7 linked regions of the Homo sapiens genome follow. The protein of the gene in region 5 interacts with the protein of the main gene of each other region in a pairwise test. Each region holds a gene or a part of one and is shown on either strand. Other genes may lie near its edges.

Region 1 (4,326 bases), on a different chromosome or scaffold from region 5:
AGAGAATAATGGAGAATATTCAATATAGGATGCAGAGTCATTTGAATGATGCAACAGCTTACTGTGGTATAAAGGTTATAATGAAAAGAAGAAGGCTGGGTGCAGTGGCTCACGCCTGTAATTCCAGCACTTTGGGAGGCTGAGGTGGGCAGATCACGAGGTCAAGAGATCGAGACCATCCTGGCCAACATGGTGAAACCCTGTCTCTACTAAAAATACAAAAAAATTAGCTGGGCGTGGTGGCACGCACCTGTAGTAGCAGCTACTCAGGAGGCTGAGGCAGGAGAATCGCTTGAACCTGGGAGGCAGAGGTTGCAGTGAGCCGAGAACGCACCACTGCACTCCAGCCTGGGCAACGGAGCGAGACTCTGTCTCAAAAAAAAAAAGAAAAGAAAAGAGGAGAAAAGACGGAAGAGCACCATAAAAACTAATGTAATACTGAAAGGATCCAAGCTACAGAGGTTTTGACAAAAGTTTATGCATATGAAATGTGCTCGTGATGAAGTCATCCACTCCCATGACACAAGACCAGTGAAATATCCCAAGATTTTAAAACACTGACCACTTTGCATTCTGTTTCCTGAGTCAAAGCCAAACTACAGAGTTGAAAGTGCTTTAGCTCAACCTCAAACCCTTTTTGTTTAGATCAGAAGTCACCAACCCCCAGGCCATGGACCAGCACTGGTCCGTGCCCTGTTAGGAACCAGGCCACACAGCAGGAGGTGAGCAGCAGGTGAGCAAGCATTACCACCTGAGCTCCACCTCTCCTGTCAGATCAGCAGCAGCAACAGATTCTCATAGGAGCGCAAACCCTATTGTGAACTGTGTATTTGAGGGATCTAGGTTGCGCACTCCTTATCAGAATCTAATGCCTGATGACCTGAGGTGAAACGAAACCGGTCCCTGGTGCCAAAAAGGCTGGAGACCATTGATTTAGGTAATGGTTCTCACTTAGCAAGCAAGTGAACAAATCTGTATATGCCCATTTGGTTAAGCCTGGTATCTCCCAGACATATGACCATAGCAGAATGAACAATAATTATGTTTAATGATTTTGTTACTACCTTTTTTGCTGAGGGACTTTTTCCAGGATGTTATTTCTGGAGAAAAGAAAGGGATCTCTAGGAAATACTTGCTCCTGTCTGGTACAGAAATTTCACCCAATTTACACAGGCCAGGCCCTCTTCTCTGAATAACTTAACAGGTGAGGTCAACATGCATTTATTCAGTGCCTGCTGTGTGCTTTTATAAAATAAAAGCTGTATCATGTTATAGTGTGGCAGAGAATAGTGGGAACAGACATCAACAAGGAATGTATATAAAAGAACTTTAAAGCCGGGAGTCCCAGCTGTGACAGACCAATCTCCAATTCATTAAGACCCTAACCCTCAGGCTCCTTTCAAGCTGAACTCATGCTTAATTTAAAGGAAAATATTCGTGCCAAAGTTTCCAGGAAATGGAAACTGGAGACTTTTTCAGGTCCTCTAAATTCTCAATCATTCCCCACATGAATTGTCACAGAAACAAAGGGCAAGAGACCACTTTACCTCTTGTGGATTTACTGCAGTTAAGACAGAAACTTCATATGATTGCCTCCCTGACTGCATGGTCACCAGGTGATGTGTCACATCAGGCACTGAAGACAGGGAACGTGGGGATCCTTCAGCAAGCACCTCTGTGAAGCAACAGAAAAATGTTTCAATGAAAAGTGAATCCAGAGATACACCTATCTGGATCATTAAGCCTCTCATTAACAACTCTAAAACTCTATTCCTCTATTTCCCACATTCCTCTATTTCTTCCAAGTTAATCCTGTCTGATAAGCATTATCAGTGAATTTGGAAAGTAATATAAAAAGAGAATAGAAAGGCAAGAAATCTTAATACAGGATTTAGAATAATATGGTGTTAGCACTTTTAACTGAATTAAAACTATGTATGAAACAGGCAAAAGTCTTAGGCAAGCAGGTAAGGGAACCAAAGCCACCCTTAAAAGCAGTCGCCAATGATACTAATAGCACTTACTAACTGAATATGATATGAGTAACAAAAACATAGGGTCTCACAGTTACTAAATGTTCATCAGTGGGATCACCATGAAAATCTTCTGGAAATAGTTTATGGATATACCACTTAGCCCTCAAAAAACTAGAAGTTTCTTCTAGGGGTTTTCTAGATTATACAACTATTTTATGCTGTACCATATAATTTAATGTTGGCTTATATACTATCTTTTATGTACTCAATGTTCTTTCCCATATATATGTAAGCTTTCACTTCTCAACTGGATTTTAAGGTCCCTATCTTCTACTTTTGTCTTTCCCATGGTGCCAGGCACACAGTAGGCACTGAATAAATGCATGCTGACCTCACCTGTTAAGTTTTTCAGAGAAGAGGGCCTGGCCTGTGTAACTTGGGTGAAATTTCTATACCAGAGAGGAGCAAGTGTTTCCTAGAGAGCCCTTTCTTTTCTCCAGAAGATATGGCTTTTGAAGGTATGGAGAAATTGCTTTATATCTCCTCTGTAAAACCTGGTTATGTTCTGTTTAAATGTTCTAAAAGTTAAGTTCTTCCATAACTGCAATAGGAAAGATAGAAATAGTTGGGCTAGGATGCTAGGATTAGGAATAATTTTTTCTTAAGAATTTTTTCTTTTTATTCTTTTATTATATTATCTTCAATGAAAAAAAATTTTTTTTTAAACAGATTGACTAATCCACCCCAGAGAATAAGAACACAAATGCTACTCATACCACAGCTACTCATAAGAAATGAGATTTAAACATACATTGTGGAGACACCCCATTCCTTAGCCCCTAGTTGCAGCCCATTTTTCCCAAATAAAGGAGAGTTGGAAGTCTTACCATCATCAACTCCCAGGATAGAATTGGTATTTGGTAGGTTCAAGGACTCTCCACCAAGGCTGGGCTGGGAATTCATAGACACCAGGTTTTTACTGGGTACTGAAGCCTCTTCAAGCAAACTACTGCCCATTAGTGGCTCAGCTGCACAGAGAATAGGTTGTGAGAGACATACAGCAATCAAGGCTGTGCCTGGTCCTCATTTTCTTTCAACAGAAGCTGGCCTTCTCTTTCATTACTAGAAGTTAACCTATAGATGGGATGCCACCCCCTATTTCACCTACTTTCGAGAAACAAGAATAAACCTAGAAGGGAAAGAGTAAGCCTTAGAAGATAATGATCCTTGCTTGTGTTCAGCGTCTGAAGAATTAGCATATGAAACAGGATAGGTGGATCTTTAGAAAGGAATATTTGGAATAATTAAGGAAAGATATGGCGAAGGAATAAGAATTAAAAAGAGTTATCAAATTTCAGGCAGGGCAAAAAGGTAGTCATGACTGGTAAATAAAATATGCTTCCAGCCTGGCCAACATGGTGAAACCCCGTCTCTACAAAAATATAAAAATCAGCCAGGTGTGGTGGCACCTGCCTATAATCCCAGCTACTCAAGAGGCTGAGGCAGGAAAACTGCTTGAACCCAGGAGGCAGAGGTTGCAGTGAGTCGAGATGGCGCCACTGCACTCCAGCCTGGGTGACAAAGCAAGACTCCATCTAAAAAAATTAAAAAGCTTAAACTCTTCCCATGTGGAAATCTTTTATCACTGTGTTACTCAAATGCTTGTTCATGGATCAGCACTAGTTACCATCAAACTCACTAGGGAAACTTTTAAAACTACAGATTCTAGGATCTTGCAAATTATCTCATTTATCAGATTGCTTTGTTTTATTGGTGGGCGGACAAGCAACAAAAAGTATATAAATTTTAAAAGGTTGCAGATGATTCTACTGTATAGCTATGTTTGGAAACCATCAGCCCATCAAATGAGACCAGGTCTATCTACCCAAAACAGAATCAGAAAATTTCCAGATAAGCAGGCAGGACAGTGATTTGGCTCTTGGAACCCTAGAAGTAGTACAGCGTTCCACTATGCCCACCCTCCTCACCAGTTTGCTCCTGCTCTTGACTCCCAGCTGCTCCCAGCTGCAGGTGATGCTTTCTCATATGCACATTCCTGCTTCCACTCTGAGAGAAGGTCTTCCCACAGACTTGGCACTGATGAGGCTTCTCTCCTGAAACAGGGACCAGGTTAAACAAGGAAGCCAAAAGGACAGGAAGAGAATGAACTCAAGACCTAGATGGAGAAACCCAGAGAATGTTAAACTGAACATAAGCAGCTGCTCCTTTTCCCATTCCGCACCTTCCCAGCCTCTCAAACTTCAGTATATGGGGGAAGGCAGGAAGAGTACACCAGGAGGGCTTTAGCACACTCCCTGCTCCCAGCTGCTGGTCCTTTCCAGACCTTCTG
Region 2 (4,326 bases), on a different chromosome or scaffold from region 5:
TTGGGGTCCAGCAGCTCAAGAAGGAGGCTGCAAATCCAAACTCAAACCCGTGACACTTCTGCCACTTGCCAGCACGGGCTCCACCTTCTCATGTGCTACCTCTTTACATTCTCCCCACCGACCCATGATCTAAGTACAATTTCATCTGTATTTTATTTTATTTTTTTTTTTGAGACAGAGTTTCGCTCTTGTTGCCCAGGCTGGAGTGCAGTGGCATGATCTCGGCTCACTGCCACCTCCACCTCCCTGGTCCAAGCGATTCTCCTGCCTCAGCCTCCCTAATAGCTGGGACTACAGGCACGTGCCACCAAGCCCAGCTAATTTTTTTTTTGTATTTTTAGTAGAGACAGGGTTTCACCACGTTGGTCAGGCTGGTCTCAAACTCCCGACCTCAGGTGATCCACCTGTCTCGGCCTCCCGAAGTGCTGGGATTACAGGCGTGAGCCACCATGCCCGGCCCTCATCTGCATTTTAGAGGAAGATATAGGTTGCAGAAAGGTGAGACCACCTTCCCAGGATCAGTCAGCACTGGAGCTGGGACAGGAATCCCAGCCACCTGGCTCCAGCACAGAGTTCTCGGCCACTGGGATGGAAGGGCTCTGAGACAGACTCTACTGCAGGAACACAGAGCAGCTCCCGGCCCTCCTCACCCTCCCATCACCCAGGATGCCCTTCCCACACATCTCACCTTCACTCCTTTCTTCTTGGTCTGCTCCAGGAAAAACTCATCCTGGCCAACCAACGGCCTGTCCAGGGGGTCTGTGGATACAGCGAGGGGAGCTGCTGGGACAGTCCCAGCATGGAAGAGGCACCAAAGGCTCCCCCCCAATCCCTCCACATTTCAAAAAGGTGACCCTGAAGCTCAGGCAAGGGAAGGACTGATTCTAGACCCCAAGGGCCTTGATCACCAGGACAAAACTGTGTCTGGACGGGTTCAGAAAGTGGAAGAGACCAAAGCTGAAGGCTTCCTTTCCTGAAGCCTCACAACTCAGGAAAGGAAAAGCACGAGTGGGAAACGGCCGCCCCTTCAGGACGCACGACTCTGCTGGGAGGTCACCAAAGCACCCACAAAGCACTCCCTTTCACACTGTACTCTCGTGCAGTGCACAACACACACAAACTGCACATGGCCGTCCTGTCCCCATTCATAGGTGACAGCAGGATCACTCACTGTCTGAGGCCCAGAGGTCGTAGAAGGGCCGCTCTACGGTGTCCTGGGGCCCGGGCTTGGCCCTTGTTGCAGAAGGGTTGAGGAGCCGGGCCTGGGCCCTGCGCACCTCCCGGGGCAGCTCGCCCTGCTTGGCCAGCTTCTCCCATAGCTGCTCCTTCCGCCTGAGCTTCTTGGCGTTGGGGACCTGGTGGGCGAGGACGCTGGTCGGGGAGAGGGGGCACAAGTGCAGCAGGTGAGGTGGCAGCCTGAACGGCAGCAGGGCCTCCTCCCCGTCGGGCTTCCTCCACCATTAAGGCAGCTTCAGCACCCCCTCTCCAAAAGGTGGCACTCCGCCCCCTCTTCAGAGAACTCCTCTCCCCACGTCTGTCTCCAGCCTAGGCCTCCCCTCTGAGCCCCAGACTCAACGAAGCAACAGCCCCGTCCTGGACATACCCCAGGCACCTCACACCACCACGTCAAAACCAACCTCAGCATCACCCGAAATCCCACTCCTCCACATCCCCATCTCAGGGGAAGGCCAGCTGTCCACCCTCTCACCCGCTCATGCCCCAAGACCCACCTGATGTGCCTCCTGAACACGCCTCCCACTCAGCCCCTCCTCTCCAACCCCGAAGCCCCCAGCTGGGTCCAGGCCCCTCCTCACCTGCCTCGGCCCAGCACCAGGGCACCCAGACTCCCTCCCTCTAATCTGCACTCCGAAGCCCAAACCTGAGCCTGCCCTACCCTTCAAATGACCCTCACCTACCAGCCCCCAGCCCCGGAAACCCTTTAGGACCAGAGTCTGGTGGGAAAGAAGGGCCCAGGGATGCTGGGACACTCACTCTTTGGGGGCAGGGACTTTGGATGTGTTCTCGAGGATGAGGTCAACCCGAAGGGGTTTCTTGAGAAGCAGTGACTTCTTCTGGACTTTGGTTCTCTTCTTTGTCAGCCCTAAGAATGGGAAAGAGAACAAGTCAAGGCCTCAGCCCTACCCACTGCCAAAGACCACCCACCCTATTCACCTCCATGGGAGCCATCAGACCTGAATCCCAAGTCACCCCAGGAGACTTGGAGGTCCCCAGGCTCCTACCTGGAGGTAGAGGCCCCTAAGGATGGGGCCCAAGGTGCCCAAGCTCTGACCCTCCACAACCAAGTGCTGGGCCAGCAGGAGGCAGGCCCCATGCTGGGGACACGAAGAGTCACGCCCACAGCCACATAGGAGGGTCTTCCAGACAAACAGGGAACCTCTTCCCTGCATGGTGGCTCACGCCTGTAATCCCAGCACTCTGGGAGGCTGAGGTGGGAGGATCGCTTGAGCCCAGGAGTTTGATGCCAGCCTGAGCAACATAGTGAGATCTCATCTCAGGGGGAAAAAAAAAAGGAAGAAAGCAAGTCATCAGTTGACACTGAAGCCCAGGGAGGGCCACAGAAGTGGACTTGGGACCCAGGATGGCCACTTCTCAGCATAACTTCTAGTTCTCTGGTTTTTACTGTCTTTTTCCTCCCACAAAGATACCTGTGGTTTTTACTTCAAAAGCCTAACAGTTAAAAGCAGTAACTCTACAGCAAAACACTCTAGAATGGAATAACACCCTTGCATGGACTGTGGGACCTCACACAAGAGGCTTAGCTCCTCCGTGCCCCCAAAATGAGGATGTGGATACCTCCCTCACTAGGCCGTTATGAAGATGTAATCATTTAAGGCCCACAAAGCACAGGGGCTGACCTGGTTGACTGCTCACAACCACTATGATCTTTGTCCGTGTTTCCTTACTAAAGTGGAACCCATAAACTGCCTCTTTCCTGCCCCCCAAAGAGGCTTCCCACTCGCCAAAGCACGCCGGTAACTACTTTCCCATCTGTTCATTACGGGCAGGTCACTGACTTACCCTTTACACTCACACACCAGATCAACTCACTTCGGTCAAGGCTGACTTCTCTAATAACCCCCCACTTTTTTTTTTTTTTGAGACAGAGTCTTGTAACCCAGGCTGGAGCGGAGTGCAATGATGCGCTCTTGGCTCACTGCAACCTCTGCCTCCCAGGTTCAAGCAACAATCCTGCCTCAGCCTCCTGAGTAGCTGGAATTACAGGCATGCGCCACCACGCTCGGCTAATTTTGTACTCTTAGTAAAGACGGGGTTTCTCCATGTTGGTCAGGCTGGTCTCAAACTCCCGACCTCAGGTGATCCACCCGCATCAGCCTCCCAAAGTGCTGGGATTACAGGCGTGAGCCACCACGCCCAGCTTGAGACAGAGTCTTGCTCTGTCGCCCAGGCTGGAGTGCAGTGGTATGATCTTGGCTCACTGCAACCTCTGCCTCCCGGGTTCAAGCGCTTCTCAGTAGCTGGGATTACATGCGTGTACCATGACGTCCGGCTAGTTTTTGTATTTTTAGTAGAGACGGGGTTTCGCCATGCTGCCCAGGCTGGTCTCCAACCCCTGACCTCAAGTGATCCGCCCCACCTCGGCCTCCCAAAGCGCTGGGCTTACAGGTGTAGGCCACTGCACCCAGACTCTAATAACCACTTTTTACCTGCCTATTGGAAGTCTCCTGTACCTCAGGGCAGCTCCTTCCACTCTATCTGGTCACTGAACCAGGTCCGCTCATTTTCATTAAAACATACCCTTTGACTGATCTCACACAAGCTCACTCTCTTGCTCATTAAAGCAGACCCCTTCGCTTGCTTCCAGGCTGTTCATTAGAGCAGATCATCTGTTCTTAGTTTGTTTTTCTACATATTGAAGTAAACACTATTACTCACCAGAGCAATCCCTCCCTCACGCCTCATCTTGTTTCAGCAGATCCCCACCCTACATTCTAGCAACTTAAGGCAAGCAAGTTAAGACGTGTGTTACCCGCTCACTAAAGCAAGTCCTCTTATTCCTATTAAAGCTCATCTTGGCCAGGCGCAGCGGCTCACGCCTATAACCCCAGCACTTTGGGAGGCCAAGGCGGGTGGATCACCTGAGGTCAGGAGTTTGAGACCAGCCTAGCTGACATGATGAAGACCCATCTCTACTAAAAATACAGAAATTAGCCAGGCTTGACCAGGCGTGGTGGCTCATGCCTGTAATCCCAGCACTTTGGGAGGCCGAGGCGGGCGGATCACCTGAGGTCAGGAGTTCGAGACCAGCCTGACCAACATAGAGAAACCCCATCTCTACTAAAAATA
Region 3 (3,682 bases), on a different chromosome or scaffold from region 5:
ATCTGAATCATAATAGTTTGATTGATTTTTCTGCCTTGCTCTTTGCAGAACCATTCATTATACCTTCGCCTTACCATTTTCATTCCCCTACTAAAATGTTAACCCTGGGTAGACAATTAATAAGCCTTTATAACAGGGACAATCATCCATTCTCACCAATTCCATTTATTCTCATTTTCAATGAATGATATCAAGGGGTCTTCTCATTAACTTCTCAAAAAGTATAAACAGAGTTACCATGGCAGTGAATCGCCATTGCTTTTTTTTTTTAGTACATTTTTTGCTGCAGTCTATTTTGCTGGAACTATTGCTGCTAATTAACAGCTGGTTTTTAATAAATTTGCTTGCAGCTATTTGCTTTGCCCATTTATAGGAGTTAATTGTGGTCTCGCTGCTGCTGAGTGATTCCCTAACACAATATGCCTGTGATTCTTTACAGAATAAACTATGTTGTCCTGTTTCTTGGAAATCACAGGATTAATTAACTGAGAAGATGTTAAATTGAATTTTAAACCAAAGTCAGATGAAGGCTTACTGGCACAAATTTTGACTAATGTCTTTTTAATGTCTTATATATTTAATTTGCTGAAGTCAGAATATACTGTTGGTAATGCATTCAGAGCTAGGTTTGGGGTTTCTTTATTCTTCTCTGCAGTCTTTAGGGTATAGTTCTTATTTCTCATTTTGCCCTTCCTTTCAGCTCCCCAAGACTTGTCTTTTGATATTCACAGACTCTGGATGGGTTTTTACTTACTTTTCTAAAAAATATTATTGTTATTCACAGTGAGTGCGTTTTAGCAGCAGTGTTTCTTTTTCAGTTTTCCAGAGTATCAGGAAATGCCCTGGTGATAGTTTTATCTATTGTAATCAGTCCTTGCTATTTCAGGTTCTCCTGTGTAACACTAGACTCCATGGCCCCTCATTATACTAGATTTGGCAAATATCTGACAACTACGTTGCTCAAGTCAGGCTTTAGGTCACCTTCAAACTCTTGACGACCACTACCACTTAGAGAAAGTAGCATGATGTAATATAAAAGACCTAGGAAATGGTCAAGAGACTTGGTTCTACCACTCACTAGCCTTGTGACCTTAGTCAATTTCACCTTTGAGGCGGGGGCCGGGGGAGACTTGGTTTCTTTATTAAATATGGGGGTTAGACTGGGTACTCCTCCACACCCTTCCCAGTATGAATGCCATTGGTACATTGGAACTGGGCCATTCCTAGTATTAGGAATGCTTGCTTTACTTGGAGGTCTTAGCTTTAGTTGGAGGTCCAGAGGGCAATTCTTGGCCCTCTAACAGTTCAGATCCACTCATGGGAGCTAAAATGGGCTAAAGTGGAGGCACTAGTGTGAACCCAGTCACTATGTGGCTCCATAAAGCCTGCCATCTCTGGAGCTGTGATGAGAGGGTCATCACAATTCCAACAGATCTTAAAGCCGGGAAGTGACATTCTACAGATTTGAACCCAGTTCTAAATTCATATTCTTTTTGTTATATCCCTTGCTTCCTCCACAGAGTAAAGATTACAACACTGGTGCTTTTATCATCTTTAATGGATTGGGGATATGGCTTATAAAGAGTAAAAATTACAGTAGATACATAAAATAAAAGAAATTGGCTGGGTGCCATGGCTCATGCCTGTAATCCCAGCACTTTGGGAGGCCAAGGCCGGTGGATCACTTAAACCCAGGAATTCAAGGCCATCCTGGACAACATAGTGACGCCCCGTCCTACAAAAAATACAAAAATTAGCTGGGCATGGTGGCACGCGCCTATGGTCCCAGCTACTCCAGAGGCTGAGGTGGGAGGATCGCTTGAGCCCAGCAGGTTGAGGCTGCAGTGAGTTGTGTTTGCACCACTGCACTCCAGCCTGGGTGACAGAGCAAGACCCTTTTTCAAAAAAAAAAGGAAAAAGAATCCTCTGACAACAATTATTGCATGAAATCTTTTTTTTTTTTTCAGATATCTTTATACAGTCATAAAAGTATATAAAACCTAGGTACAATATAAAAAATAATTATAGATCAATCTAATGTGGCCACCACCCATGTTAACAAATAGACCATTGCCAGCACCCCAAAAACCCTATGTGCCATTGCAGATCACAGCCCTCTACCTCTCCCCAAGAGGTAACCACCATTCTAACTTTCAGGATAAGTACTTCCTTGTTTTTCTTTGCAATTTTACAGTGTGTGTACCTATCCTCAAACAATATAGTTGTTTTGCCCATTTCTGAACTTTATATAGATCATACAATATGTACTTGTCAGTGCTTTGCTTCTTTTGCTCAGTATTATATTTGTGAGATCTATCCATGTTGTGGCATGTAACTGTAGTTCATTCATTTTCCTTGCTTTGTTTCACTCCATTATAGGAATAGACCACAATTTATTTATCCATTCTGCTACTAATAGATATTTGGGTGATTTCCCATTTGGGGTTATTGAAGGACAGTACTATCCTGAACATTCTTGAACATGTCCTCCCTTGGGACTCATATGTGGGAGCTTCTCTGGTTATATTCCTAGGAGTGTAATTGTTGGTCATAGGGTATGCAGATTTTCAAACAACTGTGACTGCTGAACTTAATTATCACCAGTACTTTTAATCCATATTTTTTTTTTTTTTTTTTTTGAGACAGAGTCTTGTTCTGTCACCCAGGCTGGAGTACAGTGGCGCGATCTCGGCTCACTGCAAGCTCCGCCTCCCAGGTTCACGCCATTCTCCTGCCTCAGCCTCCCGAGTAGCTGGGACTACAGGCGGCCACCACCACGCCCGGCTAATTTTTTGTATTTTTAGTAGAGACGGGGTTTCACCGTGTTAGCCAGGATGGTCTTGATCTCCTGACCTCGTGATCCACCCGTCTCGGCCTCCCAAAGCACTGGGATTACAGGCGTGAGCCACCGCGCCTGGCCTAATCTATACATTTTTGATGAAAATTTAAAGTCTTCTGTTCTCGTCTAAAAAGGTTTGTCTTTCCTATAGAAAAATGCAAGAATGGCAGCAGAAAAGCATTATTCTAATACCCTAAAAGCACTAGGAATATCTGATGAGTTTGTTTCAAAGAAAGGCCAAAGTGGAAAAGTACTTGAGTACTTCAACAATCAAGAGACGAAAAGTGTCACTGAAGACAAAGAAAGGTAACATATATAAGATGTCTGAATGGCTTACCTTTGAAAAAATTATTACCTGCAGAAAAGCACAATTTTATACTATGTATATTTTTTGTTCTATATTGTTTTAAAAAGATCTTTTACCCAATAGTAAAAGACATATGAACTGTTGTAAAACACACTGATATTTTAACATGTTTGACACATTAACGTTCACATGAAGTATTTTATTTTTAAAGCAGAATAACAGATTTCTTAAAGACATAAGTAACAAAAATAATAGCATGCTTTCAAATGAAGTTTAAAGAAACAATCACTCAAATTTTGAAATAAATTAGTTTTCAGGAATATTAAATTTCTCAATGGGCACTTTTATAGCGTTTTCTTCTTTTTTTTGAGTTGTCTTGGTAACAAATTGGAATTCATACACTTGAGGAAGACTGGCTACACGGTGGCATACTTGCAGAGGGTTTGTTTACCTTTAAACCAACTCATTTTTCCTTTGAAAGATTGATAAATTTCTTCCCCTAGCTTTAATGAAGAAGAAAAAATAGAAGAAAGAGA
Region 4 (4,326 bases), on a different chromosome or scaffold from region 5:
ACTGAATAGTTAGACCAAGTTATATGGTAAGTGCAGAAGCTGGTTGAGAAAAGGGAGATCAGCATGGAACAAAATGGTTAGGGAATTGAGCAGTACCTTGAAGAATGGGTGGGAAATGTTGGATGATCAAAGCACAGTTATAGAGACAAAAGCTGGCTGGACTTGGTAAAAAGATGAGTCTGACCAGCCAAAGCATTCTGTTGGGATCATTGGCAGTACTGAGAAGGCTAATGAGGAAAAGTGGAACTAGGTTGTGGGAATCCTGAGAAACAGCCTTTGAGGCTTTGGATGCACCACACACTTGTGTTCCACTGCTGTTTCCTCATAGCCCATTCTCTTAAGCCCCAGGAATCTGGCTTCATCTGCCCCCAGGTTTCTGACAGCGAGTTCCTAAAGGTGGTCTCTAACTGTCCTGGGAGGAGGAGGAGGTGCTTCTATTGGCTTGGAGCCCCCTGTGTTAGTTTGCTGGGGCTGCTATAACAAAATACCACAGACTGTATGGCTTAAAAAATGGAAATTTATTTCTTACTCTTCTGGAGACTACAAGTCCAAGATCAGGGTGTTGGCAGATTTGGTTTTTTTATTTTATTTTAATTAATTAATTAATTTATTTATTTTTCTTGAGACAGAGTCTCACTCTGTTGCCCAGGCTGGAGTGCAGTGGCACGATCTTGGCTCACTGCAACATCTGCCTCCCAGGTTCAAGCGATTCTCCTGCCTCAGCCTCCCGAGTAGCTAGGATTACAGGCACCCGCCACCATGCCAGGCTAATTTTTTTGTATTTTTAGTAGAGATGGGGTTTCACCATGTTGGCCAGGCTGGTCTCGAACTTGTGACCTCAAGTGATTTGCCCTCCTCAGCTTCCCAAAGTGCTGGGATTACAGGAGTGAGCAACTGTGTCTGGCGGTTTTTAATTTTTTTTAATTAATTTTTAAATTTTTTTTAATCGTGCAGCCCTCAGAATTACAGTAGATTCAGAGAGACTCCCTTATTTTTTGAGACAGGGTCTCACTCCATTGCCCAGGCTGGAGTGCAGTGGCGCAACCTTGGCTTATACAGCCTCGAACTCCTGAGCTCAAGGGCTCCTCCTGCCTCAGCCTTTTGAGTAGCTGGGACTACAGGTGCAGTTTTTTATTTTTAGTAGAGAGGTCTCACTAAGTTGCCCAGGCTGGTCTCAAACTCCTGGGCTCAAGTAGTCCTCCCGCCTTGGCCTCCCAAAGTGTTGGGACTACAAGCCTGAGCCACTGCCCCCGGCCTGAGAAACTCCCTTTTGAAGAATCAATTCTGTAAGGAAACAGTGCATTCTGTCTTCCCTGACCCTTTTAACTCTGGCAATTAATACTTGATGAAGGCTGGGCGCCATGTCTCATGCCTATAATCCAGCACTTTGGGAGGCTGAGGCAGGCAGATTGCCTGAGCTCAGGAGTTCGAGACCAGCCTCGACAACATGGTGAAACCCCATGTCTACAGAAAAATACAACAAAATTAGCTGGGCATGGTGGCACATGCCTGTAGTCCCAGCTGCTTGAGGGGCTGAGGTGGGAGGATCATTTAAGCCTGGGAAGTAAAGGCTTCGGTGAGTTGAGATGGTGCCACTGCGCTGCAGCCTGGGCGACAGAGTGAGACCCTACCTCAAAAAACAAACAAACAAACGAACAAAAAAACACATTGATTAAATGTTAGAGATGGGCCAGGCATGTTGGCTTATGCCTGTGATACCAACACTTTGGGAGGCCGAGGTGGGAGGATCACTTGAGTCCAGGAGTTTGTGAGCAGCCTGGGCAACACAGGGAGACCCTTATTCTACCAAAAAAACCCCAAAAAACAAACAAAAAAAATTAGCTAGGCTCAGTGATGGATGCCTGTAGTCCCAGCTAGTTGGGAGGCTTAGGTGAGAGGATCACTTGAGCCTCAGAAGTTGAGGCTGCAGTGAGCCATGATCGTGTCACTCCACTCCAGACTGGGCAGCAGAGCAAGACCGCATCTCAAACAAAACAAAATATTAGAGACGAGTTCTCATTTCATATTGCTGTAGTTAGTGGCTCCTTGGATAGTCCAAGATAAAAAGTTTCCTACTACTTTTATCATATACTTTTTCCCACACCTCACTCTCCAGAAGTATCCTTGGTTAAGTTTGGGGTATGGGGTATATCTTAGAGCCAGATTTCTATACATGTGCAACCATATGTACTTATACTTTTAAACTACAAATATCATAACATACTGTTCTGCACCTTGCTTTTTTACCTATCATGGGCTATCTCAGTATATAAAGTGTGTGATGTATGTCATTCTTTTCTGTTTGCTACATAGTGCTTTAGTGAATATTCTTGTATTTTTTTTGTACTTGGAAAATTATTCAGTTGGATTTATTCTTAGAAGAAATACTCATTGGTCTAAGAGAAGGTACATATAAAAATTGATAAGTACTGTCAAATTAGCTTCCAGAAAAGTTGTACAGACTTGTACAACTTTTAAAAATTCACCAACTTACCCATGATAGGACTAACAACATTCATTGTACTAATAAAAATTAGAGCTAACATTTGGATATCACTTGTTCTGAGTCAGGCATGCTCTCTCTGCATAATAAGTCACTGAGTACTGTAATTATTGTCATTATCCCCATTTTTATAGATGAGAAAGGCTGAGGTAATGATTTTAAAAAAAATTACAGTGGCAGAAATAGCATTTGAACCCAGGCATTCACGTTGGCCTTGGCAGGCAATGGGTAGGGAGCATCAGGTTGGACAGATGGGCATGTCAGTGTTTCTGCATAACAGAATCCTAGACAGTAAATTGTAGATTTTAAGGGTGGACTTAGATTTTGATAATACCACTCAGTTTGCCTTGCAAAGAGTTAGAATGAAAAGTGGGGATAGCTGGGCATGGTGGCTCACGCCTGTAATGCTAACACTTTTGGGAGGCCGAGGCGGGCGAATCAGCTGAGGTCAGTTCGAGACCAGCCTGACCAACGTGGCAAAACCCCATCTCTACTAAAAATACAAAAAGTTAGCCAGGCGTGGTGGCAGGCACCTGGAATCCCAGCTACTTGGGAGGCTGAGGCAGGAGAATCGCTTGAACCCAAGGGGAGGAGGTTGCAGAGAGCCCAGATCATGCCACTGCAGTCCAGCCTGGGCGACAGAGCAAAATTCCATCTCGAAAAAAGAAAAGTGGGGATCTGTTTTTTGGAATCAACTCTTTCGTCACTAGTGACCTAGGTAATTCACTTCTACTTGTGAAAGGACAAATGCATGCACTTTTGTTTGTAAAAGGATAGCTCTATTCTTTGTCTGTGATCCAGGTAAAGAAATAGAGAATATTGCCAGGGAAGGTGCACCTGACAGGAATGGTAACTAAGCAGACCCAGGAGAACCATTTCTTTTTCTCTGGATGGTATTTTGCCTCTCAATCTTAATATTTTCTTTTTTTTTTTCTTCCCAGATGAGGGCTCACTGTGTTGCCCAGGCTAGTTTTGAACTCCTGGGTTCAAGTGATCTTCCCTCTGCCTCCTGAGTAGCTGGGATTACAGGCATGTGCCACCACACCAGTTTATAATCTTAATATTTTAAAAACTGAAATTATTCTCTTGGGGAACAGTAGGTAGTGGGGCTGCAGGAATCACAGGTCATACCTTCAAGCCAAATAGCTGTAGATGCATGGTCTTTTTTTTTTTATTTTTTGGAGACAGAGTCTCTATCTGTCGCCAGGCTGGAGTGCGGTGGCGTGATCTTGGCTTACTGCACCCTCTGCCTCCTGGGTTCAAGCGATTCTTCTGCCTCAGCTTCCCGAGTAGCTGGGACTACAGGCGCATGCCACCATGCCCAGCTAATTTTTGTATTTTTAGTAGAGACTGGGTTTCACCATGTTGGCCAGGCTGGTCTCGATCTCTTGACCTTGTGATCTGCCCACCTCAGCCTCCCAAAGTGCTGAGATTATTACAGGCATGAGCCACCGCGCCCGGCCAATGCATGGTCTTAAGAATGGATGAGACGATGCTAAGAGCTGTTTTGGAAGGCGTGAGGGTGTTGCCAGCTTCCAGGAAAGGAAGGGGTTCTCATCAACTGGATGTTACATGTGCTGTTTTCCAGGGCCTTAATAAACCACAGTGACTGAACAGAGACTTGCAACCATTTTCAACATTTGACAGAAAGTTTGGTCCTATTTGGTCATCTCAGAATTGAAGCTTGGATCATTGCTACAAGTGAAAACAAATTGATCAGAAATGTCAAGAAAAAAATCTGATATTGTAGCGCTTCCATGGTAGTTCTTAGATTCACAGGATGCCAAACTGGCTTTTGCCAGATTAAGAATTATTTCCTTGCT
Region 5 (4,326 bases):
TTTGTACATGGGCATCCCATTGTTCTAGCATCATTTATTGAAAAAAAAAAACTATCGTTTTTCCTGCTAAATTACCTTCGTATCTTTGGTGAAAATTAGTTGTCCATATATGTATGAGTCTGTTTCTGGAATCTATTTAGTTTCATTAATCTGTTTGTCTATCTTGATATCAATGCTATATTGTCTTGATTACTATAGCTTTATAAACCTTGAAATGATATAGTATTAGTCCTTCAACTTTGTTCTTCTTTTTCATTCATTCATTTATTAATTTAGAGATAGGGTCTTGCTTTGTCACCCAGCCTAGAGTGCAGTGGCACAATCATAGCTCACTGATTAAACTCCTGGGTTCAAGTTGTCTTCCCACCTCAGCCACCTAAGTAGCGAGGACTACAGGTTCATGCCACAATGCCTGGCTAATCTTTTTTTTGTAGAGATGGGGTCTTGCTATGTTGCCCAGTCTGGTCTTGAATTCCTGGGCCTCAAGCTGTCCTCCTGCCTCAGCCTCCCAGAGTGCTGGGATTACAGGTGTGAGCCACCATGGCCAGCCTGTTCTTTTTCAAAGTTGTTTTGTCTTTTATAGATCTTTTGCAGCTCTGTATGAATTTTAAAATCAGGAAAGTTTCCTGAATTATAGTTTTTTTAATTGGTTCTGTTGTTTTAGTTTTCTTTTTCAATTACCACTATTATGTGTATGTTTGAGCTTCTTTGCCTATCTTTGTCATTTTCATATTTCTTCTTCATTTCTTTTTAATTTTTTAAAATTGTTTTCCTTTTAATCTCTATTTCTCTTAAGGCATTGTCTGTAGTCTTTACTCATTCATTTTCCTTCTTTAATCTTCATTTCAGAAATAATTAGTTTTTAAAAGTTACTAATTTCTAGATTCTATCAGCTCATTTCCAAGTTTTATTTCTAATTATGTTGTTTATGTCTTACAGAGTTTTACATGTATTTTAGTTTGTTTTAATATAGAGGTTATAGTTCCTATCTGTTTTGTGAGCACGTCTTTCTAGTATATTTTTCTTGTCTGTAGAGATTTTTTTTAATATGAACTTTTACAATTTAAAATTTTTTTAATTTCATGGGTGCACAGATGTGTATGTTTATGGGTTACATGGGATATTTTGATACACCATATAATATATAATAATCATATCAGGGTAAATGAGGTAGCCACCATCTTAAGCATTTATCCTTTGTGTTAGAAACAATCCAATTATTCTCTTTTAGTTACTTAAAAGTGTGCAATTATATTATTATTGAATATAGTCAACCCATTGTGCTAGCAAATATTAGATCTTATTCTTTTTTTCTATTTTTTTGTACCCATTGACCATCCCCTCTTCCTTTCAGCCCACCTGTTACTCTTCCCAGCCTTTGGTAACCATCCTTCTACTCTGTGTCTCCATGAGTTCAATTGTTTTGATTTTTGGATCCCACAAATAAATGAGAACATGTGATGTTTGTCTTTCTGTGCCTGGCTTATTTCACTTAAAATAATGACTTCCAGTTCCATCCATGTTGTTGCAAATGACAGGAGCTCATTCTTTTTTTATGGCTGAGTAGTACTCCATTATGTATATGTACCAGATTTTCTTTATCCATTTGTCTGTCAGTGGACACTTGGGTTGCTTCCAAATCTTGGCTTTTGTGAATAATGCTGCAGTAAACATGAGAGTGCAGATATCTCTTTAATATGCTGATTTCCTACCAAAAATATAAAAAATTGGCCAGTGTGGTGGCATGTGCCTATAATCCCAGCTACTCAGGAGGCTGAGGCAGGAGAATCGCTTGAACCTGGGAGGCAGAGGTTGCAGTGAGCCGAGATTGTGCCACTGCACTCCAGCCTGGGCGACAGAGTGAGACTCAAAAAAAAAAAGTTGTTTCAGATCCTTATACATCCTGGCTATTAACCCTCGTCAGATGGGTAGTTTACAAATATTTTCTCCCATTCTGTGGGTTGTCTCTTCACTTTGTTGTTTCCTTTGCCGTGCAGAAGCTTTTTAACTCAATGTGACCCCACCTGTCTATTTTTGCTTTGGTTGCCTGTGCTTGTGGTATATTACTCAAGAAATCTTTGCCCAATCCAATGTCCTGGAGAGTTTCCCCAATTTTTTTGTAGTACTTTCATAGTTTGAGGGCTTAGATTTAAGTCTTGATTCATTTTTATTTGATTTTTGTATATGGTGAGAGATAGGGGTCTAGTTCCATTCTTCTGCATATGGATATCCCAGCACCATTCATTGAAGAGACTTTTCTTTCCCCAATGTATGTTCTTGGCACCTTTGTCAATAATGAGTTCACTGTCAGTATGTGGATTTGTTTCTGGGTTTTCTGTTCTGTTCCATTGGTCTATGTGTCTGTTTTGGTGGCAGTAGTATGCTGTTTTAGTTAATATAGCTCTGCAATATAATTTGAAGTCAGTTAATGTGATTCCTCCAGTTTTATTCTTTTTGCTCAGGATAGCTTTGGCTATTCTGGGTCTTTTGTGCTTTAAATTTTAGGATTATTTTGTCTATTTCTGTGAAGAATGTCATTGGTATTTTGCTAGGCATTTGCATTGAATCTGTAGATTGCTTTGAGTAATATAGATATTTTAACAATATTGATTGTTTCAATCTATGAACATGGAATATCTTTTCATTTTTTTGTGGCCTCTTCAATTTCTGTCATCAGTATTTTATAATTTTCATTGTAGAGATGTTTTACTTCATTGGTTCAGTTAATTCCTAGGTGTTTAATTTTCTTTGTGGCTATTGTAAATGGGATTACTGTTTTGATTTCTTTTTCAGATTGTCCTTGTTGGTTTATAGAAATGCTACTGATTTTTCTAAGCTGATTTTGTGTCTTGCAGCTTTACTGAATTTGTTTACCAGTTCAAATAGCTTTTTGGTGGAGTCTTCAGGTTTTTCCAAATATAAGATCATGTCACCTGCAAACAAGGATAATTTGATTTCAAATTTTGATGGCCTTTTTTTCCTTTCTCATGTCTAACTGCTAGCTAGAGCAATTCCAGTCCTTTTTCATCTCTAGCTAGAGCAATTCTAGTCCTAACTACAGCAATTCCAGTCCTTTTTCATCTCTGATTTTATTTGAATCTTTTTTCCTTTCTTCCTTCATAGTCTGGCTAAAGGTTTGTCAATTTTTTATCCTTGTTCTGTTCTAGATCTTAGAGGAAAGGCTTTCAGTTTTTCCCGATTCAGTGTGATACTGCCTGTGGGTCTGTCATACATGGCTTTTATTATGTGGAGGTATGTTCCTTTTATACCTAGTTTTTTTAGGGTTTTTTTTTTAAATCATGAAGGAATGTTGAATTTTATCAAGTGCTTTTTCAGTATCAGTTGAAACGATCATATGGTTTTTGTCTTTCAGTCTGTTGATAATGATGTATCACATTGATTGATTTGCATATGTTGAATCATCCTTTCATCCCTGGGATAAATCCCACTTGTTGATGATGAATGATCTTTTTAATGTGTTGTTGAATTTGGTTTGCTAGTATTTTGTTGAAGATTTTTGCATCAATATTAATCAGGGATATTGGCCTGTAGGTTTTTCTCTCTCTCTCTCTTTTTTTTTTTTTTTTTTGATATGTCTTTGTCTGGTTTTGGTATCAGGGTAATACTGGCCTCATAGAATGAGTTTGGATGTATTCCCTCCTCTTCCATTCTTCAGAATAGTTTGAGTAGGGTTGGTGTTAATTCTTTAAATGTTTGGTAGAATTCAGCAGTGAAGCCATGGAGTCCGAGGCTTTTCTTTGCTGGAGGACTTTTTATTATAGCTTCAATGTTGTTAGTTGTTATTGGTCTGTTCAGGTTTTGGATTTCTTTATGGTTCAATCTTAGTAGGTTGTTTGTGTCTAGGAATTTATCCATTTCTTCTAGATTTTCTAGTTTATTGGTATATAGTTGCTCCTAGTAGGCTCTAATGATCCTTTGTATTTCTGCAGTATTGGTTGTAATGTCTCCTTTTTCATCTCTGATTTTGAATCTTTTCTCTTTTTTCTTCATTAGTCTGGCTAAGGGTTTATCAGTTTTCTACATCTTTTCAAAAAACCAACTTTTTGTTTTATTGTTCTTATGTCTTATTTGTTTCAATTTCATTATTTCTGCTGTAATCTTTATTATTTCTTCTACTTTCAGTTTGGTTTGCTCTGCTTTTCTAGTTCTAGTTCATTAGGTTGTTTATTTGAAGTTTTTCTTTTCATGTAGGCACTTAAAGCTATAAATTTCTCTCAGTACTGTTTTCACTGTATCCCATAGGTTTTGGTATGTTCTGTTTCCATTATCATTTGTTTCAAGACATTTTTCAGTTTCCTTCTTAAT
Region 6 (4,326 bases), on a different chromosome or scaffold from region 5:
CGCACACACACATGCACACTCCCAGTCCTGGCTGTTTTCACTGAAGAAACATCCTGAGAGGGCGGAGCGCGGTGCAGAGGAGAGAGCTGTGGGCTTGCTCCCTCCTGTGTGACCTGAAGCCATCGGTGCAGGTTCTGTTCTGAGGAATTTCTTTAAAGTCTCTCTTCAAACCACTCGCAGGCAAGAGGTGCCTCTGGTGCCTCCGCATCTACGAATTGAATATGAACTAATGTGGTGCGGCTGGGTGGTTGTGTCCTCTCCAGCCTTCCTTGGAGGGGTCGTTGCTCTTGGGACAGGGGAGTTCCCCTGAGCATTTTGCTCAGGCTGTTTGTTAAATGGGGTAAAGCCACCTCCCACCATGTGCCGCATAGGTGATGGTGGTGGCAAGGTCCTCAGAGCCCGTCAAGGGCCCTTCCCATCTTGTGGCCACAGGCAATGAGGGCCTTTGCTTTGAATTTGTCCTAACCAGAAATTAGTGGTTGTCTTTCTAATGTAGAGCTTTTTGTTTGTTTGTTTCTAGAGCAAATCATGGAGGAAGATAAAAAACATGGTGCACTGGTCTCCCTTCGTCATGTCCTTCAAGAAGAAGTACCCCTGGATCCAGCTGGCAGGACACGCAGGTAGACACAGCTCTCCCAGACTTTCCCAGCATGGTGCTCAGCCCTCTGGGGAGGTGCCCTGGACGCTGCATTCTGGGGATCAAAGCTCCAGAGCAAGTTCCCTCCAAGACTTTCTAGTCTGAAATCACAGCCACACTTGCAGGCTGCGGCCTTACCAATGCCTTGTAAATGCCATAGACAACGGACCTCTCTGGAGTCTGTGTTACCCCATCCTCCAAAACATGCATCCTCCCCTCCCTCGGTCTCTGGCTCTTATCTCTGTCTCTTCCAGTCTCTTTCTTTCTGTCTCTCTTCCCGTTGTATTCAATAAGACAGATGAAGCCATCAGTCTTTATAGCTTACCTGCCATTTGTCACCCTGGACAAAGAGGCAAAGCTAACCCCTTCATTGAGCACCTACTGTGTGCCTAAATTGCCATGGTCCTGGGGGTTGCGGCATTAATGGAGATGTAGTTTCTGCCCTGAGGGAGCCTGCAGCTGGTGGAAGATGCGGCCAAGCCACCCCATAACTGCAGGGCGGTGTGCGGTGTTGGGAGGAAGGTGGCTAGGAGCTGAGTCCAGGCAGTGCCGGGGAGAAGGGACATCTGGAGCCGAGGCCCCAGAGCCATCTAGCCCACATGTAGGACCCTCTGGAAGCACTGTCATCTGGAGACATGTCAGGGGCTGCCTGTGGACTTGGCCTTCGTGACTTCACCAGCCTCCTCAGGCCAGCACAAGGTCCCGCATTTCGCTTACCTCGTTGGCCACACTGGCCCAACTCAAGGCACATGGATGGACAGCCTGTGTGAATACTTACTTGGTCTGGCTCAGAAGAAGTGCCACCCAGGTGGGCTGAGCCTTAGGCCCCCCAGCTTCTCAGCCTGCTGTATCTCCCCACCTTGGCTCTGAATCCTGTCCAATCAGGGTTTCTCTACTGAGGCCAGGAGACACCTTCGTTGCCGAGAAGCAGGGCTGATGATGGAGGTGAGGATGAAAATAGCAACACTAAGGAATGACTGGGTCGTGGCACCTCAGTCTCTCACCTAGCTCTGTACCCTTCCAGCAGGGAACACTGGTGAGGAGGAGTCTGGAGTCAAGGAAGCTGGGGAACCAGCTCAGAATTACAGTTAGTGAGTGGGGACTAGGTCTTGAACCCACTCCCCTTAAGGTGCTCAGTCCATAGCAGGGACATAGACACACCTTCAGCCCCAGGCTTAGCCATCCCCAGGGAGGCCCAGACCCTGTGCTGGGGAGGGTGCCTCTGCCAGCTACCTGCAGCCGGAGACCAGGAACCTTCTACACTTGCTCTCCAGGGAGTTTCAAGGCAGCTGCCAATGGCAGGATCCTGAAGAAGCACTGTGAGTCAGAGCAGCGCTGCCTGGACCGGCTGATGGTGGATGTGCTGAGGCCCTTCGTACCTGCCTACCATGGGGATGTGGTGAAGGACGGGGAGCGCTACAACCAGATGGACGACCTGCTGGCCGACTTCGACTCGCCCTGTGTGATGGACTGCAAGATGGGAATCAGGTGAGCCAGGCTTCTCGCAGCCCACATGCCTGCCTCAGTGCAAGCCACATGGCAGGTGCACAGCGTGGCACTCAGGGCTTCCCGGAGGCCTCACAGGTGCAAGGGCAGGCTGAGGAGGCTGTTGGACCAATTAGAGCCTCCCCATCCCCAGGCATCTCCCATTATTTGCAGAGGGTTCCGGGACCTGGGCTTTGCCCATGATGGCCCCTTTCCTTCTCCAGTGAGCAGAAGCCAGGGGCTGGCGGAACCAGAAAAAGGGCACCGGCTGGGTTCTGAGGCCCCCTAGAGAGAAGGAAGAGAGAGCTGCCCTTGGTTCAGGTGGGATCGCTGGGGGTGCGGGGAGCCACCAGGTAGGGAGGTCGCAGGATGGTGACTTCCTGCTGTGTGAGCTGCAGGGGAGATGGGAATCGAGGTCTTTCCATTTCCCCAGCCCTGGTGAGTGGGAAGAGAGAGTGGCTAGTAGAACATGCTGGTTTCCCAAAAAAGACCTGTATCTGCCTAAAAGGAGGAGGAAGCCCCTGACGGAACTCAAGAAACCCACATGGCAGGTCACCGCAGGGCCCCAGGTGAGCCCGGAGCAGTCACTGGGCCTGTGTGCAGGACTGGCTCCCACCCCCAGGTTCCTGACAGGGGCTCAGGCTCACCCTGACACCTGCCCAGGGGATAAGCCTGGAGAGGACTCCAGGGAAGAGGAGAGAGGAAGAGGGGGCTTGAGGAGGCAGGGCAGAGAGCAGACAGGGATGCCTGAGGCCGGCTGCTGTGATCTCGGGGCTCAGTTTTAGGCAGCCGGGTTTTCTCATTACCTCTCAAACTGCTGCCCTTCCACCCTGAGTCATCCACAGCACGGCTCCTTCTCCCCTGTGCAGGCTTGGTGAACCTCCCTAAGGCTGTCGGCCCCCATGGTGTCCAGCGTGCGGTGCTCATGTTGTGGGGCTGGCCCTCACTGCAGCACCCGGGCTGGACGGCCAGATGCCAAGCCCCCCCATGCTTCCTTGCAGGGCTGTCTGGGAGGCCAGGCACGGAGACTCAGAGCTCAGAGCAGAAGGCTGTGTCCACTGTGACTGGTTTAACCGGATTATTTCTCATAAGAGCAGATTGAGAAAGAGGGGTGTGTGTGTGAGAGAGAGAGAGACAGAGACAGAGGCCAGGAGAGAAGAGAGCTAAGCCAGCCAGCATTTCTTTCCTTCTTTCCTTTCTTCTCTCTCCTCCTGGGAGTTCTGTCCTAAAATCACACCCTGCCACTGACTGTTGTGTTCTCTCGCCATCACTCACAGGGAAAGAATGGGGGATGGAGAAGCACAGGCCCCACTGTTTGCTCTTGAGCCATCCCTGGCCACCTCCCTCCCACCATCCAAGTTCCTTACTATCTTTAGCCCACAGGGACCTGGGATAGGGCAGGGAGGAGAAAGAACATGCCCCCAGCCAGCCCGAGGCCTTTGCTTTTCCCGAGTCTGATTTCTGACCCAGGATGGCATCCACTGGTGCACCAGAATGTGTCCTCTCAGGGGAGGCCCAGCCCTTCCTTCCAACCCAGACAGCAGCAGGACTTCGCAGGTGACCACATGGAGAATAATCCAAGTGGTGTCCACTCAGACCTGGCCAAAAAAGTACGGCCTGTGTGAAGAACACTGGCTGGGCATTTCTGGAAGTCGGCTGTCCCAAAGACACAGCCAGCCAAGCACAGGGCCAGGCTGCCCCAGAACCTGCCTGCTCCTGCTGGGGACAGGAGCCCCGCTTCCTGCCCCAGGGCTGCCCCCACCCAGCCGCTTGACTTCCGCAGCTTCTCTCTGATTGCACCCTAGTGCTCTCAAGAGAGATCTAGAGTGACCGTGGCTGGTACCCATGTAACCCATCTTGGCAGGCAGAGGGAAGAGGATGAGAGAGGAGTATGTGTGGAGGGGAAGAGGAAGGTCTCCCCAGAAGCAGGGTGCACCCAGCCCGATCTTTCCTGCACACAAATCCTAAGGACCCTTCTTGTTCCAAGGGCTATGCTAGATGCTTCCATTATTTATCCCATTGCGTTCTCACCGCCATTCTGGGAGATGGGTCATGTTCCAGTGTAAGCAGGAGGGTTCTGTCACCAGGAGGTTCAGTGACTCATCAGGGCCACCCAGCCAGGCAGCAGCTTGGTGCAGTTCTGCACCAGGCTTGCTTGACTGCAAATCAGGCCCCCAGCTGCAGCCCAGCCCTTCCCAAGGGGG
Region 7 (4,326 bases), on a different chromosome or scaffold from region 5:
TTATATAATTGACATGATACTAGGATAACCTTCTAGAAGTGTATTTCAGTGAGTTTGTATTTCTAAAATTTTTATGACATATCACTTAGCCATCATTCAGAAAAGCCATGCAGATTTATGCTTCCATCTATATAGTATATATACATACACGTGTTTCTGCATCTCCTCACTAATGCTATAATGTATTCTCTTTTTTTTTAAGTATTTTTAATCTTTGAAGCCTTTATGAAGGGACATGATGAAATACCACGTTAGTGTAGGCATTCTGTGGAGTTAGAAAGTATTCTGACCAATTGCTAGCGAAGAAAAGTGTATCCTTGTGACAAGGAGTTTGGCCTCTCCTTAAATTACAATACTGTGTCACTTGTAGATTTTTTTCATTGCCCAAACTTCACTTTGGCTGTGAAGACATGAACCCAGTAATATTTTCTTTTTGGACTTACTAGGAAACTAGTAACGTTTAATGAATACAGTATGTCTGAAGACTAACACATTTAGAAATTAATATTTATTGGGTACTTTGGACATCTTAATCTTTCTGTTACCATTTTGTGGTTATAATCTTAATTAAAATTCTCTTGAAATTTGCTGGCTTTATAGACAGTGTAATAAAATTATTTACAATGGCACTCTTGTATTCAGAATTTTTGCGCTCATTATAACTGAGAAGTGTGAGAGTTTGTTCAGTTAGAATTAAGTTTTATTATCTTAATACTTATTTATAAGTTACATATTATATATTATATAATAAATATTTATTATATATAATATAAATATAATATATAATAAAATATATTTTATTATATAAATATATTATTTATAATAAGATAATAATACTTTATTATCTTAATAATAAAGTTAATTGGATTAAGTGGAATGAGATTATGAATGATTTTTCTTCTTTCATGATGCAGAATTCTCCAAAACACCAGTGGGGAGAAGAGGAACCAAATTCTCAGATGGTAATACATATTTGCTGTCTCTGAGTATATGTTAAATTTTTAAATTTCTGATGGCTAATAATAAATAACACTAATAATAGCTTTTAAAGAACACAAGTAAATAAGGGTTTGGTTAAAGGGAAAGGGGAAAAAAAAGAACTACATGCTGCTTTCTTTTCTTCTTACTTTTCCTTCCTCTCCCTCTTTTAGGAAAAAGATCATAATAGTGAAGATGAGGATGAAGATAAATATGCAGATGATATTGACATGCCTGGACAGAATTTTGACTCCAAGAGACGAATTACTGTCCGGAATCTCAGGATTCGAGAAGATATTGCAAAAGTAAGTCTTGTCAGCTTAACATACATATTTGAAAAATACTTGTCTTCCCAGCATAAATTTTATCGACTCTGGGTAGCATATGGATAATATAGTCAGAGTCATTCTAAGATAAGGTTTCATTCTGTTTTTTCTCTTCACCTGAACCCCAGAAATGTATACACACATTTATTTAATTGATCATGTTCAACTCCTCCAACTAGTCTGCTGAAATCTTTTTGCTGTGAGTAAACATTAATTCTTTAAATATTTTTTTCTTCTAGTATTTGAGGAATTTAGATCCAAATTCTGCCTACTATGATCCAAAAACTAGAGCAATGAGAGAGAATCCTTATGCCAATGCAGGAAAGAATCCAGATGAGTAAGTATCAAGTTAAATGTACAGATTTTAAGATGAGAGAAAGTTAATTGTTTTCTGACCTGACCATAGATGGTGTTCATTTTAATTCAGATTCAGTTTTACGAATTAATTTTCCTTAAATCAATCTCTGAAACATTTTCTTTATTTGTATTTACAGAGTGAGTTATGCTGGAGATAACTTTGTTAGGTACACAGGAGATACCATTTCAATGGCTCAGACACAGTGTAAGTGTTTCCTCTATGTCAAGCCATTTTATATCAGCTCATAAGACGTTTGGGATTGTTTAAAGCTTGTTTTCAAGAAGCATACAGTAATGCAGCTGCCAACTCACTAAGATGTTTTGAATTACTCTAGTGTTTGCATGGGAAGCCTATGACAAGGGATCTGAAGTGCATCTACAGGCAGATCCTACAAAGCTAGAGCTGTTGTATAAGTCCTTCAAAGTCAAAAAAGAAGATTTCAAAGAACAGCAGAAAGAAAGCATCCTGGAAAAGGTAATTTTGACCAAAATGCTAAAGAAGAACTTCTGTTAAAGAGAAGTTACTAGTTAATAAGCGTTAGTTTTACATTTGGAAAATAATGCAAAGAGAGCCCTCTTAATCCATGAAGAATAGTCCTTTTCTTCCTTTCTCTTAGTCAGATGGTAATTTTGTATGAGCTTTTGCAGCAAAACAAGCTACCTCAAATCTTAATAGCTTAAAATAAACATTTATTGTTTCTCACAGTTGGCCAAGTCTCCTGGTCTGGGCTTGCTCAGCTGAGGTTAGATGATGAACTAAGATGGCCTCACTCTTGTGTTTAGCAGTTAACAGGCTAATTGTCCTAAGGGGACCTCTTCTGGGACAGCTCATCTCCACCCCATGTGGTCTTTCATCCTCTAGTAGGGTAGCACAGCTTTTTAAAATGGCATTCTCAGAGTTCTAGAGAGTGGCAGCAAAAAGTGTGCTGTGGTACATAAGTGCCTTTGCTTGCATCACATTTGCCAACTTTCATTGGTCAAAGCAAATAACATGGTCAGGCCCAGATTCAAGGGACAGAGAAAGACTTCGTCTCTTGATGGGAAGAAAAGCAAAGCCCTGTGGCAAAAGGGCATGTATAGAAAGATAAGAGGAATTTATGGCCATCTTGTAACTTACTGTACTCAACAGATGAATAGCAACTGAGACATCTTCTATTTGCCTCAGAAAAAATTTGTGGCTTTTTTTTTCCTACTGTGCTTTCTATAACAAAACCCAGTAAAGAATGTTCCCTTTCTTTCTGATTAGAAATAAATGTTTTCTGGAAATTTAAATGCAAATCAGGTTGTAAAATGTATTGAATAATGTCCAATGTCCTTTTAGTATGGTGGCCAAGAACATTTGGATGCCCCTCCAGCTGAATTGCTTTTAGCCCAGACTGAAGACTATGTGGAGTACTCAAGACATGGGACAGTCATCAAAGGACAGGAGCGGGCTGTTGCCTGCTCTAAGTATGAGGAGGATGTGAAGATCCACAATCACACAGTATGTGCTAAACTGGAACAATTTTGTGTCCTTGTTGGTTTTGCTCTGTATTGCATTTTTCCACTACAACTTTATTAGCTAACCATTTGTATTCTCTATGCTTTAAAAAAAAAAAAAAATTTTAACTGTTTCATGGAATTTTTTCAAAAATAGAAAAATTTTGAAGGAATACTATGTTCATCTATATACCCATCATCTAAATTCTGAAATTTTTAACATATTGCCTTATATGCTTTGTCTAGTTGTATGTGTGCATATGCACAGTTTTACATATATATGTAAAATACACATATATACACACATATAGTTTATGTATATATTTATTTGACTGAAACATTTGGAAATTATGTATATCATGACATTTTATCCATAAACGCTGTATCACATATCTCCTTAAAATGAGGATTTTCTTCTATATAACCACATCGACATTATTGCACTTCAGAAAATTAACATTATATCACCTAATATCTAGTCATTAATCACATTTTCCAAAATATACAGAAAAATGCCTTTAACACCTATTTTTTGTTTTAGTCAGAATTCGTTTCAAATTTCTTTTGATCGTTATGCGGTTATTATGTCTCTTTTCTAGAGTGTATCTCTTCATTTTCATGACGGTGACCATTTAACAGATTAGGCCAATTAGTTTGTAAATTGTCTCATATTCTGTATTGACTGGTTCCTAGTAGTGTTATATAACTTGTTTCTCTATCCCTGTATGTTTTATAAATAGGAATTTAGGTCTAACGGCTTGATTGGATATAAGTTAAATATTTTGACAAGAATATTTAATAAGTAATGTAGTATATTCATATTGCATTGTAAACATCATAAAGCATATATTGTCCTTTGCTGTTCTCTTGAAGTAACCAAACTACAATTGTCTCTCTTAGTTGAGGGTCAAAAACCTAACTCCCTATAGGAGCCAGACCAGTGATCATACATGAGTGAAGTGAGCCAGGCAAATTGTACAAACTGGAGAACACAAGCCCTATCTAATGGGGCATCCACTGTTCAGCAACAGCTGATTATTGCCAAGTGGTTATATAGGCCCAGAATTTCCCACTCCTACGTTTTTCAAGAGAAGTCAGATACCCTAAATTTTTTAATAGGCTTTTGGGAATAGAATTTAAGAGTTTTGTAACTACAGGTCCTGCTTCTCACACTTCAGGTCAGACT

The links.
Region 1: the proteins of CEP70 (region 5) and ZNF410 interact in binary tests that used the Homo sapiens proteins (3 or more experiments, as listed by UniProt).
Region 2: the proteins of CEP70 (region 5) and NOP53 interact in binary tests that used the Homo sapiens proteins (3 or more experiments, as listed by UniProt).
Region 3: the proteins of CEP70 (region 5) and FAM161A interact in binary tests that used the Homo sapiens proteins (3 or more experiments, as listed by UniProt).
Region 4: the proteins of CEP70 (region 5) and COIL interact in binary tests that used the Homo sapiens proteins (3 or more experiments, as listed by UniProt).
Region 6: the proteins of CEP70 (region 5) and ITPKB interact in binary tests that used the Homo sapiens proteins (3 or more experiments, as listed by UniProt).
Region 7: the proteins of CEP70 (region 5) and SLU7 interact in binary tests that used the Homo sapiens proteins (3 or more experiments, as listed by UniProt).

Annotation. Positions count from the first base shown.
Region 1 is NC_000014.9:73,920,744-73,925,069, reverse strand, and holds part of ZNF410 (zinc finger protein 410), read right to left. Parts: intron 4,091-4,326; coding exon 3,965-4,090; intron 3,005-3,964; coding exon 2,864-3,004; intron 2,372-2,863; exon of another isoform or gene 2,334-2,371; intron 1,676-2,333; coding exon 1,548-1,675; intron 369-1,547; coding exon of another isoform or gene 267-368; exon of another isoform or gene 251-266; intron 1-250. UniProt on the Homo sapiens protein: Transcription factor that binds to the sequence motif 5'-CATCCCATAATA-3', and is specifically required to silence expression of fetal hemoglobin in adult erythroid cells.
Region 2 is NC_000019.10:47,747,953-47,752,278, reverse strand, and holds part of NOP53 (ribosome biogenesis protein NOP53), read right to left. Parts: intron 2,102-4,326; coding exon 1,993-2,101; intron 1,372-1,992; coding exon 1,172-1,371; intron 760-1,171; coding exon 689-759; intron 1-688. UniProt on the Homo sapiens protein: Nucleolar protein which is involved in the integration of the 5S RNP into the ribosomal large subunit during ribosome biogenesis. In ribosome biogenesis, may also play a role in rRNA transcription.
Region 3 is NC_000002.12:61,826,567-61,830,248, reverse strand, and holds part of FAM161A (protein FAM161A), read left to right. Parts: intron 1-2,990; coding exon 2,991-3,145; intron 3,146-3,649; coding exon 3,650-3,682. UniProt on the Homo sapiens protein: Involved in ciliogenesis.
Region 4 is NC_000017.11:56,953,918-56,958,243, reverse strand, and holds part of COIL (coilin), read left to right. Parts: intron 1-4,326. UniProt on the Homo sapiens protein: Component of nuclear coiled bodies, also known as Cajal bodies or CBs, which are involved in the modification and assembly of nucleoplasmic snRNPs.
Region 5 is NC_000003.12:138,583,725-138,588,050, reverse strand, and holds part of CEP70 (centrosomal protein of 70 kDa), read left to right. Parts: intron 1-4,326.
Region 6 is NC_000001.11:226,644,966-226,649,291, reverse strand, and holds part of ITPKB (inositol-trisphosphate 3-kinase B), read left to right. Parts: intron 1-520; coding exon 521-620; intron 621-1,911; coding exon 1,912-2,125; intron 2,126-4,326. UniProt on the Homo sapiens protein: Catalyzes the phosphorylation of 1D-myo-inositol 1,4,5-trisphosphate (InsP3) into 1D-myo-inositol 1,3,4,5-tetrakisphosphate and participates to the regulation of calcium homeostasis.
Region 7 is NC_000005.10:160,405,286-160,409,611, reverse strand, and holds part of SLU7 (pre-mRNA-splicing factor SLU7), read left to right. Parts: intron 1-914; coding exon 915-962; intron 963-1,151; coding exon 1,152-1,283; intron 1,284-1,543; coding exon 1,544-1,641; intron 1,642-1,798; coding exon 1,799-1,866; intron 1,867-1,996; coding exon 1,997-2,136; intron 2,137-2,982; coding exon 2,983-3,144; intron 3,145-4,326. UniProt on the Homo sapiens protein: Required for pre-mRNA splicing as component of the spliceosome. Participates in the second catalytic step of pre-mRNA splicing, when the free hydroxyl group of exon I attacks the 3'-splice site to generate spliced mRNA and the excised lariat intron.